3 separate regions of the Homo sapiens genome follow, and all the other regions are linked to region 2. Evidence: fine-mapped expression QTL. A gene starts in region 2. Each other region holds a variant in brackets. All regions are shown on one strand. Distances are between the middles of the regions. Region 1 overlaps LINC01570 (long intergenic non-protein coding RNA 1570). Region 2 holds the start of DNAAF8 (dynein axonemal assembly factor 8). Region 3 overlaps ZNF500 (zinc finger protein 500).

The links. PIP is the estimated chance that this variant, and not a neighbour inherited with it, causes the effect.
Region 1: its variant is fine-mapped to the expression of DNAAF8 in spleen (GTEx, PIP 0.98).
Region 3: its variant is fine-mapped to the expression of DNAAF8 in nasal epithelium (TOPMed, PIP above 0.99).

The regions. Positions count from the first base shown.
Region 1 is chr16:5,601,665-5,606,909 of GRCh38, forward strand. All of the region lies in intron 2 of LINC01570 (long intergenic non-protein coding RNA 1570), which reads right to left. It also overlaps a transcript of RBFOX1 not described here. Among named protein-coding and RNA genes, the nearest start is that of LINC01570, 12 kb to the right of the region's middle. The variant C/T (reference allele first, on the strand shown) is at 2,359.
Region 2 is chr16:4,732,155-4,737,399 of GRCh38, forward strand. It overlaps DNAAF8 (dynein axonemal assembly factor 8), which reads left to right and starts at 2,383. Exons shown (of 10, transcript NM_139170.3): 1 at 2,383-2,544; 2 at 4,310-4,489. The coding sequence starts at 4,361. It overlaps ANKS3 (ankyrin repeat and sterile alpha motif domain containing 3), which reads right to left and starts at 2,117. Exons shown (of 18, transcript NM_133450.4): 1 at 1,784-2,117. RefSeq lists silencers at 1,903-1,962, 2,013-2,242.
Region 3 is chr16:4,759,004-4,764,248 of GRCh38, forward strand. ZNF500 (zinc finger protein 500) reads right to left here. Exons shown (of 6, transcript NM_021646.4): 3 at 3,570-3,753; 4 at 3,268-3,332; 5 at 1,489-1,585. Among named protein-coding and RNA genes, the nearest start is that of ZNF500, 5.5 kb to the right of the region's middle. The variant C/T (reference allele first, on the strand shown) is at 2,175.

The DNA.
Region 1 (5,245 bases), 870 kb after region 2:
CTATGGAAAGAAAACAAAGATACTAAACACATTTTGCAGATGGGGAAATGAGGCGTGGAGCAGGAAAGTGACTTACTAAAGAGCCTTGATATTGGTGGCACAGAAGCTTTTGAAGGGAAAGTAGTTGAAAAAGTTAATTGCCCACAATAGGATCAAAGGTGTCTGAGATGGCTCCATTTCCCCAGTGCTTAGAATAGTGCCTATGCCTGCTAGATTTTTAGCTCTCTTGGGTTGGGTCAGGTATTTCCTGGCCCCCAACCTCACTCATGGAGGCTGATGTGTTCTCTCTAGTGGAAGGGATGATGGTATCCTGCTGGTTTCTCCTCTGGAGGCTGTAGAGTCTTCTAGGTTTGCAGAGATTCAGGCTGTGAGGATCCAGTTGCCTTAACCTGCTCCTCCATCTCCACCCTCTGACTGTAGCAGGGCTGCTGAGCTGGGTCCTTCTGGCTGGACTCTCACAGGTCAGCTTCCTGTCTTGCCTTGGAATGTGTCATGGGTAGAAGCAGTCATTTTGACGACCTCTACTGGAGGCAGCATATGTTGGCCTGACCATCTCTGGATGGCAGATTGCCTCACATTCACATGTGTCAAAATGTAAAATGTGTTCCATCTTTGGTCTAGCAATTACACTTCTGGGAATTTGCACCTTGGAGATGATTGTACAAGTGTGAGATGTGTTTGTATATTTATTAAGGAAATGATTGTAGTAGCACAAATAATTTTTAAAAAGATGTACCCTCAATATCCCTCAGTAAGGGATAGTTTAAGTCAATTGTGTATATCCATAAAGTCCAATTCCAAGCTGCTGCTAGGATTTTGTGGTGAGGATTTATGTTTATTGACTTGGAAAGATGCACATGACATACTGTTGAGTGAGAAATACAGCCTGTATTATATGATTCCAATTGTGTGCAAACTGTATTCATAGATCTCCCTTTCTCTGAGTGCAGAGAGATGTCAGAAAGGCAGATGGAAAGTTCAACTAAATTACTGGTTTTTGCATTTTCCTTTAGACCCTTTTATTTTTTTTCTATAGTGAGCAGTTATTTTCTTTGACAGTGGTAGTAATAATATAATATTAGTAATAATGTAGTTGTAATAAATGTAATATAGTAAGAAGCAGTAGTAGTAATAGTAGTAATAATGTAGTTGTAATAATAGTACTAATACTAGTAATAGTAATAACTATTTATGAAATTAAGCAGTGTGTTCTGGACTGTTAAGAAGGTTTTCCAGGAGAGCTGACGGCATATTCGTTCAAGTTTCATTCTCAGTTGTCATGGAAATGCTGTGTCGTTCCTCTAGAGGAGTGAAAATGGGGTTTACAAGACTAAATGTGGCCTTTAGATAGACTTTTTGGTCCTTGCCTGCTCCAGAATGCAGAACACTCCAGGCCATGGCATCTCACCGCCCTTCCTACTCACTGCCCTGTGGCACCAGTCAGCTCTACTTTTTCTGACCTCCACCTGTCTGCTTTGGCACTGTCTCCCAGAAAGGGCTTTCCCTGGATGCAGAAAGTATATTTTGCCAGCATTCAGAATAAAATAATCATAACAGCTAGCATCTTTGGGAACTAGGAAGTACCTGGCATTGCACCCACCATTTCACAGGCATTGTATCTTTCTCTACCCAGAGTAGTCCAAGGAGGGAAGACCTATTCAAACTATTTGTTTACAAATGGGGAAACTGAGGCTCAGAAGGGCATGGCTTGCACAGTCTCATAGCTAATGGGGAAGCAGTCTGAAATTCAGACCCAGATTGGGCTGTTTCCCATGCTGCATTGAGCTGAGGGGAAGGCCAGCAGGTTCTTTTTGGTGATGCAGGGAGCATTTCTGGGAACCTGTGTCTTAGATGCAAAGTTAATTCCAGAGTCATCAGGTAACATAAAAATTACACCTGGTCAATTACTTGTGCAAGTCCTGTTGGAGACCAATCTTTCTGCCCCTCGATACATCAAATACAGCCACACTTTCCTTGATTATTAGAAAAAATGAGGGTCTTTGCTTAGATGCCAGATGAAGTGATTGTGTTGAGGTGGCATGGTGGATGAATGAAACATACCTGTCTTTAAACATTGCAGTCATCTGTGATCATGTGGCCACAAGATGGAGAGGCACTTGGGAATGAGACTGAGAAACTTGCAGGTACATGTTTCCTTTTGGGTTCACTCTGGAGCAAATGCATCCTGAACTCGTGGAAGTGATGCTGTCCAGCGTAAGAACCGCACTATTATTTTTTCTCTCTTTCTTGATATAGTAGAAACTATACCCTCCTATACCCAAGGCAGACATTACTAAGCAATGGTGTCATTCTCCCCTCCTATACCCAAGGCAGACATTAGTAATCAATGGTGCCATT[C/T]CCCCCTTCTATACTCCAGGCAGACATTACTAATCAATGGTGTCACTCTCCCCTTCTATAGCCAAGGCAGTAAGCATAGTGCAGTTAAGTGGAAGAACCCAAATTTTTACTTTGTTCTGCCTCATTCCAGAGCCATATTTCAAAACCCCTGTATTTTTCTGTAATAAGAATACAAAAAATTCATTTTTTATGCGTGCTTAAGAGACTAAGTGGCTTCAAACAACACCTGTCTACCATCTTATTGCTTCGATTGGTCATAGGTCTGGACACAGCTGAACTGGGTTCTCTGCTTAGGTTCTCACCAAGCTGCAGGCAAGGGAGTTGGCAGGAGCTGGGAGTTTCATCTGGAGCTCAGGGTCCCTTTGCAATCTCACTGGTTGTTGGAATAATTCAATTTCTTGTGGCTGTAAGATGCAGGCCCTCAGACCCTAGAGGCCACCTACGGTTCCCTGCCACATGGCCCTCTCCACAGGCAGTTTACAATGTGACAGTGTGCTTTTCCCGGGAGTGTCTCTCTAGTGCATGTTAGCAACATGGAGTCTTGTGTACACATGTCCCAACATAATCATGGCATGCCCATCATCTTTTCTATTGGTTAGAAGTAACTCGTGGGTCCTGCCTACATGCTACTGATCATGGGGCCGCACTGAGGTCTGTCCATGCTGATACAGTCCCGAGATGAGTCTGGATTTCTCCTCTTCTTGGGGCCAAGTGTGCTGCTATTTCTCTCCAGCATTTTCCCTTTTTCTTGCAGAAAAGGGGCTCATGGGCCCCCCGGGAACCAGACCACTTCAGTGTTTGACCCTCCAGACTTCCTTATCCCCTAGTCATCTGGACGTCTTAACTTCCTGCCCATGTCACCTCTGTAGGACGTCCCCTGCTGCAGTCTCAGCAAATGAATATTTGATGGAATGCTGCCACCTTTTGGAATTTAGCAAAAGTGATCTGTGTTGTTCAGAGGGATGGAAGTGAAACTCCTGTTCCCTTCTCTACAGCCCGCGCACACACACCCACTCACCCGGCCTTCATTTCCGCTGAGCATTGACTCAGGTTTGACGCCAGTTTGAGGCAGGTTTGCTTGTCCTTTCTGCTCTGGCTTCTAGTTGCTGTGAGTGGTGACAGGCTTGTTCCCTGTTTTACCCTCCAAGGTGCAGCAGAATGTTGAAGAAAGAGATGGGGCAGATTGGACTGGATTTCATCTCTGATTCCACCACCAACTCTCCAAGGACTTTGGCTTCCGTGTCTGTGAAATGAGGGTTTCTCAGGCTCTTTCTGCTCTCACGTCCCTGATCCCAGGTTATGATGCCTGTAACCATGTATGGAGAGTAGGTAACACCTCATTTATAGACGGCAGTCAGATGGGAGTGGAGGTTAGACCCAGTCCCAGGTCAAGGATGCCAAGGCTATATCTGTACTCAGTAGGGAAGAGTGGTGCCATTGATGAGTAATAGGAGGGGACAGTGGTGCCACTGATGATTAATGATTAATGTCTGCCTTTGGTATAGGAGGGCAGAGTGGTGCCATTGATTAGTAATGTCTGCCATGGGTCTGGGAGGGGAGAGTGGTGCCACTGATGAGTAATGTCTGCCTTGGGTCTAGGAGGGGAGAGTGGTGCCATTGATGAGTAAGTCTGCCTTGAGTCTAGGAGGGGAGAGTGTTGTCCTTGATGAGTAATGTCTACCTCAGGTCTAGGAGGGGAGAGTAGGGCCATTAATTTAATAATGTCTGCCTTGGGTACAGGAATGGAGAGTGGCACCATTGATTAGTAATGTCTTCCTTGGTATAGGCGAGAAGAATGGTACTCTTGAATGGTAATGTCTGCCTTGAGAACAGGAGGGGAGAGTGCCAACACAGATGCTGTCCCAACTCCAGGTGTCTCATAGAGACTTGTAGCAGCCATCATGGAACCCATAAGCTGGCCCACCTTTCCCATTGCTTCTCTTTCTGTATATTCACAGGCATAGCTTTCCTCCCTCTTCCCTGGCATCCTTGGCATTTTCCTGTCTTACTCTCAATCTGAAGTTAGCAGAGGTTGCCCGTGGCATGTCTCTAGTTGACCCACTGTCTGATCAGTTCACTTGCTGAACCATGGCTCCTCCTTTCTGACATATTTCAGCAGCTCTCTGTGATGTGAGAGTAGAGAGCAAGGTCCTGTGATTTCATACTTGGCATTGGGATACTATCTGGTGGCTTCTCCAACCTTATCTGCTACTCTCCTCCCACCCTGTCCTCCAGTGTCCATGCCCCATGTTCCCTGACTGCAGACCTTTGCTTAGGCTATCCTTTCTGCTTGAATTCTCCCCTCAGATCTGACCATCCAAATTCCTAACCATTCATCCATAGTCATCAGAAAAGCCTTGTTCAGAGATTCTTCCTAAGTCACTCTGGTTGTGTTGCTCTCCAACCACAAAATGCCCTCCACCCTCATTCCTCCCTCCCTTCCTTCCTCACCTTCTCTCTCACTCACCTCCTCTCTCCCTCACTTCTCATCTCTTCCTCATTCCACCCCCAACTCCCTAAATTATATCACAGTCACTGCTAAGAGTTGGAAGGTATGCATATGAATAAGACTCAAACCGTGCCCTCAAAGCGCTTGCAGTCTGTGAGGAGGACACAGGATGAATAAGAAGTAGCCCATAACTGAGGCACAATCTGATTGCTTTGTAGTGTAGGAAGAATATAAAGTTGAGTGGTAGTGCAAACAGGTAGGGAAGGCTTCACAGAGGAGGTGATACATAGAGTCTTGAAGGACAAGTGGGAGTCGTAACACTGATTGCAGGAGATGGGGGGCTCCAGGTAGAAGGAACAGAATCATCAGAAACATGGGCATGAACTTGGGTCTGTTATAGTCTGGAAGAGGGGATGTCAGGGGTTGGCGGGAGAAGCA
Region 2 (5,245 bases):
CTCCTTCCTGGAGCCACCACCTCTTCAGCTAGCAGAGCCCAAGATCGTGCAGTGCCCTTCCCTCACTTTGCAGGTGAGAATCCCACCCTAACAGCCCTGGCCAACGAAGCCTGGATAAGAAACCAAACGAGCTGAGGGTCAGTTCAGAGTCCCTTCCATACCTCCCTCAAGCCTTCACTGGGCATGTCTCTTCCACGCCAAAGGCCTCCTGCAGGGTGAGGCCGTGTTCTCTATTTACTGGAGACTTGCATATCTGACATCCCCAGAGGTCTGAAGGACAATGAGAACCAGACCAAGCGTGACGGACCACTTGAGGCCAGGAGTTCGAGACCACCCTGGCCAAAATGGTGAACTCCCATCTTTACTAAAATTACAAAAATTAGCTGGGTGTGGTGGTGGGCGCCTGTAGTCTCAGTACTCAGGAGGCTGAGGCAAGAGAATCGCTTGAGCCTGGGAGGCGATTGCAGTGAGCCGAGCTCAAGCCACTGCACTCCAGCCTGGGCAACAGAGCGAAATTCTGTCTCAAAAAAAAAAACAAAAAAAAAACACTAAAGTGAAAACTAAAATGTCCCATCCCGAGTGGTGTGGTGTAAAGTAGCATTAGAGATAAGACGTTTTAGTTTTCATTCAACTTTTTGGTTCTGTCCATTCTGAAAATGCTAAGTATCTGTTACCTTTACAGTGAATCCTAAAGAAAATGTGGTACTTAGACACAATGGAGTACTATTCAGCCATAAAAAAAGAATGAGATCCTATCATTTGCAAAAACATGGATGGAAGCGGAGATCGTTATGTTTAGTGAAATAAGCCAGGCACAGAAAGATAAATATTGCATGTTCTCAATTATTTGTGGTTATCTAAAAATCAAAACAACTGAACTCATGGACATAGAAAGTAGAAGGATGGTTACTTCTAGTGTAACCAAGGCTGGGAAGGGTAGTGGAGGGTGGGGATGCTTAATGGATACAAAAAAAACAGAATGAATAAGATCTAGTATTTGATCAAGCCACTGCACTCCAGCCTGGGCGACAAAGCGAGACTCCGTCTCAAAAAAAAAAAAAAAAAAAAAAAGATCTAGTATTTGACCGCACAACAGGGTGACTATAGTCAATATAATCTAATTGCACATTTTATTTATTTATTATTATTTTTTTTGAGACATAATCTCACTCTGTTACCCAGGCTAGAGTGCAGCGGCGTGATCTCGGCTCAATGCAACCTCCGCCTCCTGGGTTCAAGCGATTCTCCTGCCTCAGCTTCCCGAGTAGCTGAGATTACAGGTATGAGCCACCATGCCAGCCTAGTTTTCGTATGTTTAGTAGAGACGAAGTGTCCCCATGTTGGCCAGGCTGGTCTCAAATCCTTGACTTCAGGTGATCCGCCCGCCTTTGCCTCCCAAAGTGCTAGGATTACAGGCGTGAGTGAGCCACCGCGCCCGGCTGCACATTTAAAAATAATTCAAAGAGTATAATCATATTGTTTGTAACACAAAGGATAAATGCTTGAAGGGATGGAGACCCCCATTTTACATGTGATTATTACGAACTGCATGCCTGTATCAAAATCTCTCATATACGCCATAAATATATACACCTACTACGTACCCACAAAAATTAAAAAATTTTTAAAAATCTTAACAAATGTGATGCTGGTGGTAACTGTCACGCCCACAGAGGAGGTCTGTGAAAGCACCCAGGCACCCCCTCTCGCCCCGTGGAACCGCATCGCAAAGGTAGCTCACTGGCCCCGGGGCGGGTCCCTGGCCGACAAACCCGTAACTCACAGCAGTGACGCTTCCCGACGCCCCCCGGCCACATCCCCACAGGAACGCTACGGCGCACAGGGCATTACTGTGCCCCCACCACAACCACATAAAGAAAATGTGGGGGCTCGGTCCTCCAGTCACGCGGCGAGCAAGTGCAGCGCGGGACGCCCGAGCGCCGGGTCTAGGCGGGCTGCAGGTGCCGGCAAGTGCTGGGGCCGGGCCGCCGCGGAACCCACCTGTGCTGGGCCTCAGGCCTTGCGCCGCCCTCGGGCTGCCGTCGCCAACCCCCCCCAAACAGCTCGCCGCCACGCTCCCTCGCCGGGGCACCGCCCCCGGCACCCGCCCCGGAAGTAGTTGCGGGAGGGCGCGGAGCACGCCGGGAAGCTCGCGGGTCGGCACCGGGACAGCTCCCGGGCGCCGTGGAATGCACACGTCCCGCACCCGGACCTTCCGGTCAGCTTCCCGGCTCGCTGTCTGATGCCCGCGGTAGCCAATGAGCTAGTGGTGTTTGTCCTGCTCCGTCCCCGCCCTCCAGGGGAACCAATCCCATTGCAGGAGAGGCAGGACGCGCAAAGGCCCGAAAGAGGAGCTGGGCGGGGTGGGGGGAAGGCGGAGGCAGTCTAGTAATGTAAAGCTCCGCTGAGAGGGAGAGTGCTGAAGAAGGGGACAGCCTCTGTACCTGCGGCGCGGCCCGAGGGGCGGACGCGAGCGGAGTGACGCGCTGGAGGCTGTTTATAGCGCTGTCAGGACAGCGCGGGGAGTGGAGGCAGAGGCCTGAGGTGAGGGGCCTCGGGCCTGCTGCGCCTGCAGGGAGTTGAACAAAACGCGGGGAAATACGGGCTGGGGGTGGGTGAGAGGAGGAGCGATGGGCTTTCCACTTCCACAGCTTTAAAATTTAAAAGCTCGACCCGGGAGGCTGTTGGCGTCTGGTTGCCATAACAACCGGCAGCCTCGTGGCAGGCCGGCTGGGGGCGGGGCTCTGAGAACCGGGGCGGGGCTGTGGCGGGGCTAACAGGCTGCAGCTGAGAAACCCACCCCGAGACGGAGCCGGAAGGCCGTTATTCAGAGGCGGCTCCGAGCCTCCCCTTCGCCTTCTGGATGCTCTGAGCTCCTCAACTTGGCGTTCAGGGCCCTGCATTGTCTGGTCCGTTTTCACCGGAGAGTCCAGCAACTGACACTTTCTTCCCTTAAACCTGTTGGGCGGTTCATTCCTTTGAGCTACTGTACATGCTCTTCCTTCTGCCGGTAATGCCGTTCCCTCCCCTATTGTCTTGTCCGCCTGAAGGGTTTATCAGAGTCTCTGGAGGCCCTCTTCATCCCGACGATTCTGTTGCCCTAAGAAATACTGTGCCCTGAATTGCGGAACAGAGCTCTAGTTACAAAAAACACCCGCTGGCTGTGTGCACCAGATGCGTCCCCAACCCGCTGCTCCCAGTTCAGAGTGCACCAAGCACCTGCCCTATTCCCAGAAGTACAGAGGAAGCAAGCAGCCCCCAATTCACATCTCCTGCCGCTGCCCTGATTGGGGATGAACGGGCACTGACTGCAGGGCCAAAGCCACAGCGGCCTCTCGAGCTGCAGAGTTCTCCTGACACTGGCTCTAGAGGACCCTCACCCCCCAGCTCTCAAGCTCAAGCTCCCCAGCCCCCTGAATAACAGGACCATCTCCTTTAAGACTCTAAGATATAAATGCAGGGGCTGGTCAGAGTAGTGACTCCAAAAAAAAAAAAAAATCACTTAGTGACTCCAAACTGTCAGCCAGGCGCGATGGCACATGCCTGTAATCCCAGCACTTTGGGAGGCTGAGGCAAGAGGATCACTTGAGGCCAGGAGTTTGAGACCAGCCTGGGCAACAGGGAGACTCCATCTCTACAAAAAATAAAAATGTTAGCCAGATGTGGTGGTACACACCTGTAGTCCCAGTTATTCAGGAGGCTGAGGTGGGAGGATCACTTGAGCTCAGGAGGCCGAGGCTTCAGTGAGCTATCATTGTACCACTGCACTCTAGCCTGGGCGACAAAGCCAGACCCTGTCTCCAAAACAAAAAAGCAAGGTGTCTTCTGTTCCTTGGTAAAGGGCAGTAAAGGGTAGTAGGACTTGAAATTCCCCCTGATTCAGAGTCCACTGTTGCTATTTACTAAACACCCTGAGCCTATGAAATGAAGAGAATAGTTATGCTATATGGGGTATATATAAAATATACCTATATATCATTATATATCGTACATATGGCATTCTATATAACATGTACATATATCTACATAGGTATATTTATATCAATACATATATTTGTATATTATTATGTATATATCACTATATACATTATATACCTGCAGGCTCCACATGTGTGCATGAGTGGGAACACACACACACACGTACACACACAGTGCCTGGCACTAACAGGAGCTTGCATAACTAGAAGGAAACTGAGGCAGGTGGTGAGGCCTGCCAGCCTGTTTGGTCTCCTACAGCTGGTAGAGCAGCCCCTGCTCTCCTGACCTTCAGTGGCCCGGACCCTCTTCCATCACCCTGTGTACCCCACAGAGCTCCCCGGATTATGGTGCACTGAGAAGGCATCTGGAAGCCTGGGCCCTCATGGCATCCAACGATAAAGGCATGGCACCCTCGCTGGGCTCTCCCTGGGCCTCCCAGATGGGGCCCTGGGATGCCATCCTCAAGGCTGTCAAAGACCAGCTCCCGTCTCTGGACTCAGACTCCCCTTTGGTAAGCAAGAACTCTCTCCCTGGATGCCTTGTCCTTCCTACCAGAGCAGGCATGACGCTGGCCAGGACAGCTTTGGAGCACTTCTCTGAAGACTTTTCCTGCTGACCTGTGCAGTTTGTTGTCATTTTACTTTAAATCGCATGGCCAGACTCAAAGTTGTGTTTTCTGGGTGCCTATTTCCTTCTTTACTCTTTCTTCTGCCTTGATTGTCATCTCTGAGCATGGGTATTGGTGCTCAGCATCTTGGGAGACCCTTTCAGTGGAGTTTTTGGTGCTGACTTGGAACCCAGGTCAATTTGATGCAGAAGCTCTGTCCTTTCCATTCTGCTATTCTCCACTCTCTCGTGCCAGGACAGGGCCAGAACACCCACTGAGAATGCACAATTCCAGTGCATTGTGATAAGCCTTCGAGGGATTCTGCATTTGTGGTTTGGGGTCCCTGAAATGGCTCTCAAAGACGCTCAGACCAATAGCCCTAGGTGCAGGCATAAGACCCTGCTAAAGATGCTCCTGGCGGGGGCTGCTCAGTGCACAGGTTGGCACTGGGCGTTAAGAGACAGTATGAGGGTTTTAAAAGGAACGGGCAGGGTTTGGGTCCTACCTGGGCACCAGCAACAGAGCTTCAGGGACCTCAGACGTCATCCAGTGCATGACGAGGCTAAGGAGAACCTAAGGGGACCCCACGCCTCAGTGCTCAGGGTGTTTTCACACCTTCAGTCTCATTTGAGAGTATGAGCCCCAACCCCTTCAAGAAGA
Region 3 (5,245 bases), 27 kb after region 2:
ATTCGAGACCAGCTTGGCCAACATGGCAAAACCCAGCTCTACTAAAAATAGAAAAATTAGCCGGGTATGGTGGCACACACCTGTAATCCCAGCTACTTTGGGAGGCTGAGGCAGGAGAATCGCTTGAACCTGGAAGGCGGAGGTTGCAGTGAGCTGAGCTGAGATCGTGCCACTCCACTCCAGCCTGGGCAACAGAGCAAGACTTCATCTCAAAAAAAAAAAAAAACCCTGAAAATAACAACCATTGGTATGGATGTGGAGAAACTGGAACCCTTGTGCACTCTTGCTGGGTGCATGAGATGGTGCAGATGCTGTGGAAAACAGCATGGCGGCTCCTCAAAAAATTCAACACAGAATGACCACATATGCTCCAGCCATCCCACTGCTGGATACATCCACCCAGGAACGGAAAGCAGAGTTGATCAGAGATACACTTGTACACCCACGTTCACTGCAGCATTATTTACAATGGAATATTCTTCAGCCTTAAAAAGGAAAAAAATTCTGGAGGTTTCCCAAAGAAGGAAGTCTGCCTCAAGACCGTGGCACAGAAATCCTAAGCTTCCAGTCTGCTGGCCTGGCCTGCAGATTTCAGACTTGTCAACTTCTGTAAGCAACCAAGGGAGCTGTCTAAGTACCCATTCCTTAAAATAAATCTGTGTGTGTGTGTATCTTCTGTTGGTTCTGTTTCTCTGGAGAAGAACCCTAATACAAAGCGATATCTCACTGTCATTAGAAAAGGCTTCAGCATGGCCACGCACGGTGGCTCACACCTGTCATCCCAGCACTTTGGGAGGCCTAGGCCAGCGGATCACCTGAAGTCAGGACTTCGAGACCAGCCTGGCCAACATGGTGATGAAACCCATCTCTACTAATAAAACAAAAATTAGCCAGGCATGATGGCGAGTACCTGTAATCCCAGCTACTTGGGAGGCTGAGGTGGGAGCATCGCTTGAACCCAGGAGGTGGAGGTTGCAGTGAGCCAAGGTTGTGCCACTGCACTCCAGCCTGGGCAACAGAGCAAAAATCCATCTCAAAACAAACAAGCAAACAAAAAACCAGAAAAGGCTTCAGCAGCATCAGGAAAGGCAGGAAGAGACAAACGGACAGAGAAAGAGCTTAGGGGACGGTGCTGGGTAACAGGCAGGGCAGTGCTCAGTGTGATGGGGAGAGGCTGGAGAACCAGGTCCTGTGGGAGCAGCTCTGCCCTTGAGAGGAGGGCACAGGGAAGCTGAAGTGAAGTAGGACCAGCATGTAGGGGGCAGAGGCAGAAGAACAGGATGGCAAGGCAGTGCTGGGCATCTGCCTGAGTCACGGCCGAGTGGCTGTGCAGGCCCTGCAGGTGGGACTCTGCAGGGATACGGGTAGCCCTGTCCACGGAGGATCGCCCCAGGCCAACTGGACCAACAGAACCAAGCCCCGGAGCTGGTGCCTGACAGTTCCTATTTTTGGCAAGCCCCCTAGAGGACACAATCACTTGCAAGTTACCTTCATTCTCCAGCGGCGCGTCCCGCTGAGCTGGGTCCATGCATCTTGGCTCCTCCCCAGAAAGGTATACAGCCACGTCCTCCAAGTTCACGGGCACCTGCCAGAACGCACCCCACTCAGTCCTGGCCCCAAGCAAGCTGCCTCCTCCCCAACTAAGGCCACTGGCCCAGGGAGCTGCACCGCCACTGCCCCTCGAGGCTGGCGCCAAGCCTGGTGGTGCAGCTGGTCTTCTCCACTCTCGTTGCAGTGGTGAGTCCTGGTGTCTCCGCCCACTGCTCCCATGTGCCACTGCTGCAGAGCTGGGACACCACCGGAGAAGGGACAGATTCGCCACGAGGAGTGGTGGACCCACTGCACACTCAGCCACCGAGGCCCATGCTCCACAGGGAGACAAGAGCATCCCCTGGCTCCGTGGCTAGCCAGCCCCAGGACCCCATTGCGGCAGACGGGGGACTTCAGGATGCCTCTGGGCCAGTGGCTCCCAGATGTAGCACCAGATTGACCCGGAAGCATGATTAAAAAAACAAGCAAACTCTTTCCAGAACAGGCAAATTCACAGAGACAAGAAGGAGCTTTGTGGTTGCCAGAGGCTGAGGGAAAAACAGGTAGAGACTCTGGTAATGAGTCTAGGGGGTTTTCGGGGAGGGTCTAAAGGAAATGTTCGGCCGGGCGCGGTGGCTCACACC[C/T]GTAATCCCAGCACATTGGGAGGCCAAGGCAGGTGGATCATCTGAGGTCAGGAGCTCCAGACCAGCCTGGCCAACATGGTGAAACCCCATCTGTACTAAAAATACAAAAAAAATTAGCCAGGCATGGTGGTGGGTGCCTGTAATCCCAGCTACTCAGGAGGCTGACGCAGGAAAATCGCTTGAACCCGGGAGCCGGAGGTTGCAGTGAGCCGAGATCGCACCATTGCACTCCAGCCTGGGCAACAAGAGCAAAACTCTGTCTCAAAAAAACAAAAACAAAACAAAACAAATACACATACATACACACACACACACACACACACACACACACACACACACACACACACACATATAAAAATTATAAATAAATAAATAAAAATAAAACAGGCCAGGCATGGTGGCTTATGCCTGTAATCCCAGTGCTTTGGGAGACTTAGGCAAGAGGATCACTTGAGCCCAGGAGTTCAAGACCAGCCTAGGCAGCACAGCGAGACTGTGTCCCATTAAAAAAAAAACAAAAAAAAAACAACTAGCCGGGTGTGGTGGTGCATGCCTGTAGTCCCAACTAACTGAGGAGGCTGAGGCAGGAGGATCCCTTGAGCCTGGGAGGTCAAGGCTGCAGTGAGCTGTAATCACACTACTGCACTCCAGCGTGAGCACAGAGCCAGACTTTGGCTCAAAACAAACAAACAAACAAACAAACAAACAAAAACCCCAAAAAAACCAGCAAGCAAACAAAGGAGACTCCCATTCCAGCCCAGCGGTGTGGGAGGAAGCTGTGTTTTCCCCCAGAGTCCCAAGAGATTCCTGTGCCCAGCAGAGTAGGAGTCACCACCCTGTCTCACTGGTGGACCGCAGAATCTTCCGGGCACAGCCGAGTACTTAAATGGCCTCTGGAGAGAAGAAAAGACTTCCCAGGAGGCCAGGGGAAGTGACTCCAGGGTTGGGGCAAAGGGAGAAAACTCCAGGGAAGAGCTCCTCTGACATCCAAAACCTTGGCCCCCAGGAGAGGTGTCCCCTTAACAAGGAAGTGTGACACACAGGAGGTCGGGCCAGACCCCAGGATGCTGCAGACCAGGAGCATCCCACTCACCTGGGACCAGGCCGAAAGGAAGGGCGAGGCTGACGCCATCTCCTGATGCCGGGGAGCTGGAGGGCCTGGGAAGGAGCAGAGTCACCACCAGTCACACAGCTCACCCAGTACTGCCCCTGCCGTCCCCTGCACACCAAGGCCCCAACAGCCCGGCGGCTGCCCACCCAAGATCCACTCCTTGCTGGAGAGCCTGTGCACCCTGCATCCAGGCAGGCCTCTGCCCTGGCCACAGTCCACACCCCAGTCACCTTCACCTCCCTCCCCTGCACCACTTCTCATTCCTCCAAAGGGGTGCTACTCACCTCTCTCTGGCCACAACAGCGGGCCCCTCTGTGGCCTGTGGCTCAGCTGGGCTGGGGGCTGCTGGCTGGAGAATCGAGCCTCTTCCTCCAGGGACAGATCCTCTGGCTGAGCCTCTGCCTGGTGTTTTAAGAACTGTCCCCCTATCCCGAGGGGCACCTCGTCATCAGAAAGCAGCTCTGAGCCCTGCACACAGACAGTGATCTCCCCACCAGCTCCCAGAAGGCCAGAAGGAAAAATCCCCGCAGGGCCCCACACCCCTCATCTCAGGCACCCCAGCCGGCTGCCCACCCCCGGGCTGTCTGCAGCCTCCCTCCCTCTGCCCAGCCGTGTGGCAGTGTTCCCTGCAGCCAGCTCCCAGCCTGCTCTACTCCATGGTCTCTCCCTGTCACCACAATCGTTTCCCCATCACATTCTTACCCTCTATTCCTTGGTCCTCCTGATAGACCCTGGGATAGACCCTGGGCCAGAAGAGCCCTGAGTCAGCGCTGGACTAATTTCAGAAGTTCACAGAACTGCATTTGCTAGATTTTTTGAAATTATCTGGCCAGCTGCAATGGCTCACACCTGTAATTCCAGCACTTTGGGAGGCCGAGGTGGGTGGATCACCTGAGGCCAGGAGTTCGAGACCAGCCTAACCAACATGGTGAAACCCCATCTCTACTAAAAATACAAAAATTAGCCAGGCATGGTGGCAGCACGCTTGTAATCCCAGGTACTTGGGAGGCTGAGGCAGGAGAATCGCTTGAACTCGGGAAGTACAGGTTGCAGTGAGCCGAGATCGTGCCACTGCACTCCAGCCTGGGCAAAAGAGCGAGACTCCATCTCAGGGAAGAAAAAAAAAAAAAGAAAAAAAAAAGAAATTATCAACAGGTGCTCTGAGATGATCTATTTCCTAATTCCAGGAAAGGTGAGTTGAATGAAATTGGGTCTTAGAATTGAGCTCTGCAATAGCACTTGGACAAGAGACATCCCTAGGCAACTACAAACCCAGCGTCAGGGACCCATCTCAGGCTTCCTCTTATTCAACATTCCACACCTCTAAGGGAGCGTAGTCCCCTTGGGGAGCACAGCCTGCCCCTCTCAGCTCAGTGATGGCCATGAGGCATGTGTGCAGAGGTGTCGGTGCAGTGACAGAAGGAAGCCATGCCGGGAACCCCAAACACTGAAGCTGTGGTGGCCAGGAAAGAGGCTGGCCGGCTGGGAAGAAACCCCGATTTCTTGGCCACCCCGATGGCAGGATTTTCTGACTGCGGTCAGCTCACGCCGTGGTCAAGCATTAGGGGATGTGCCTCCTCTGTTGGCTGCAAAAGGCCAGCAGTGTGCAGCCAGCAGCACTGCCACAGGAAGAAAGGCAGCTGGTCAGCACTGCCCATGTGCCCCATCCACGCAAGGCCCTGAAAAATGAACTGAAACAGCAGGTGGCAGGACTTCTTTCTAATCTCAAGGAGTTCCACAACTGAAACTGAAGCAGCAGGAATGAGTAAGAGGCTTCCTCTACTCCTTCAAATGGGGCTGGAAGGAGGTGGAGAGGCACTGTCTATAGAGATTTCGGTGTGTCAGAAGGGTCCTGTCTGTGCCATCCAGTACAGTAGCCACTGGCCATGTGTGACGACTGAGCCCTTGAGAGGTGGTCAGTGTGACTGAGGAACTAATTTAACATTCTACACAGTGGCCG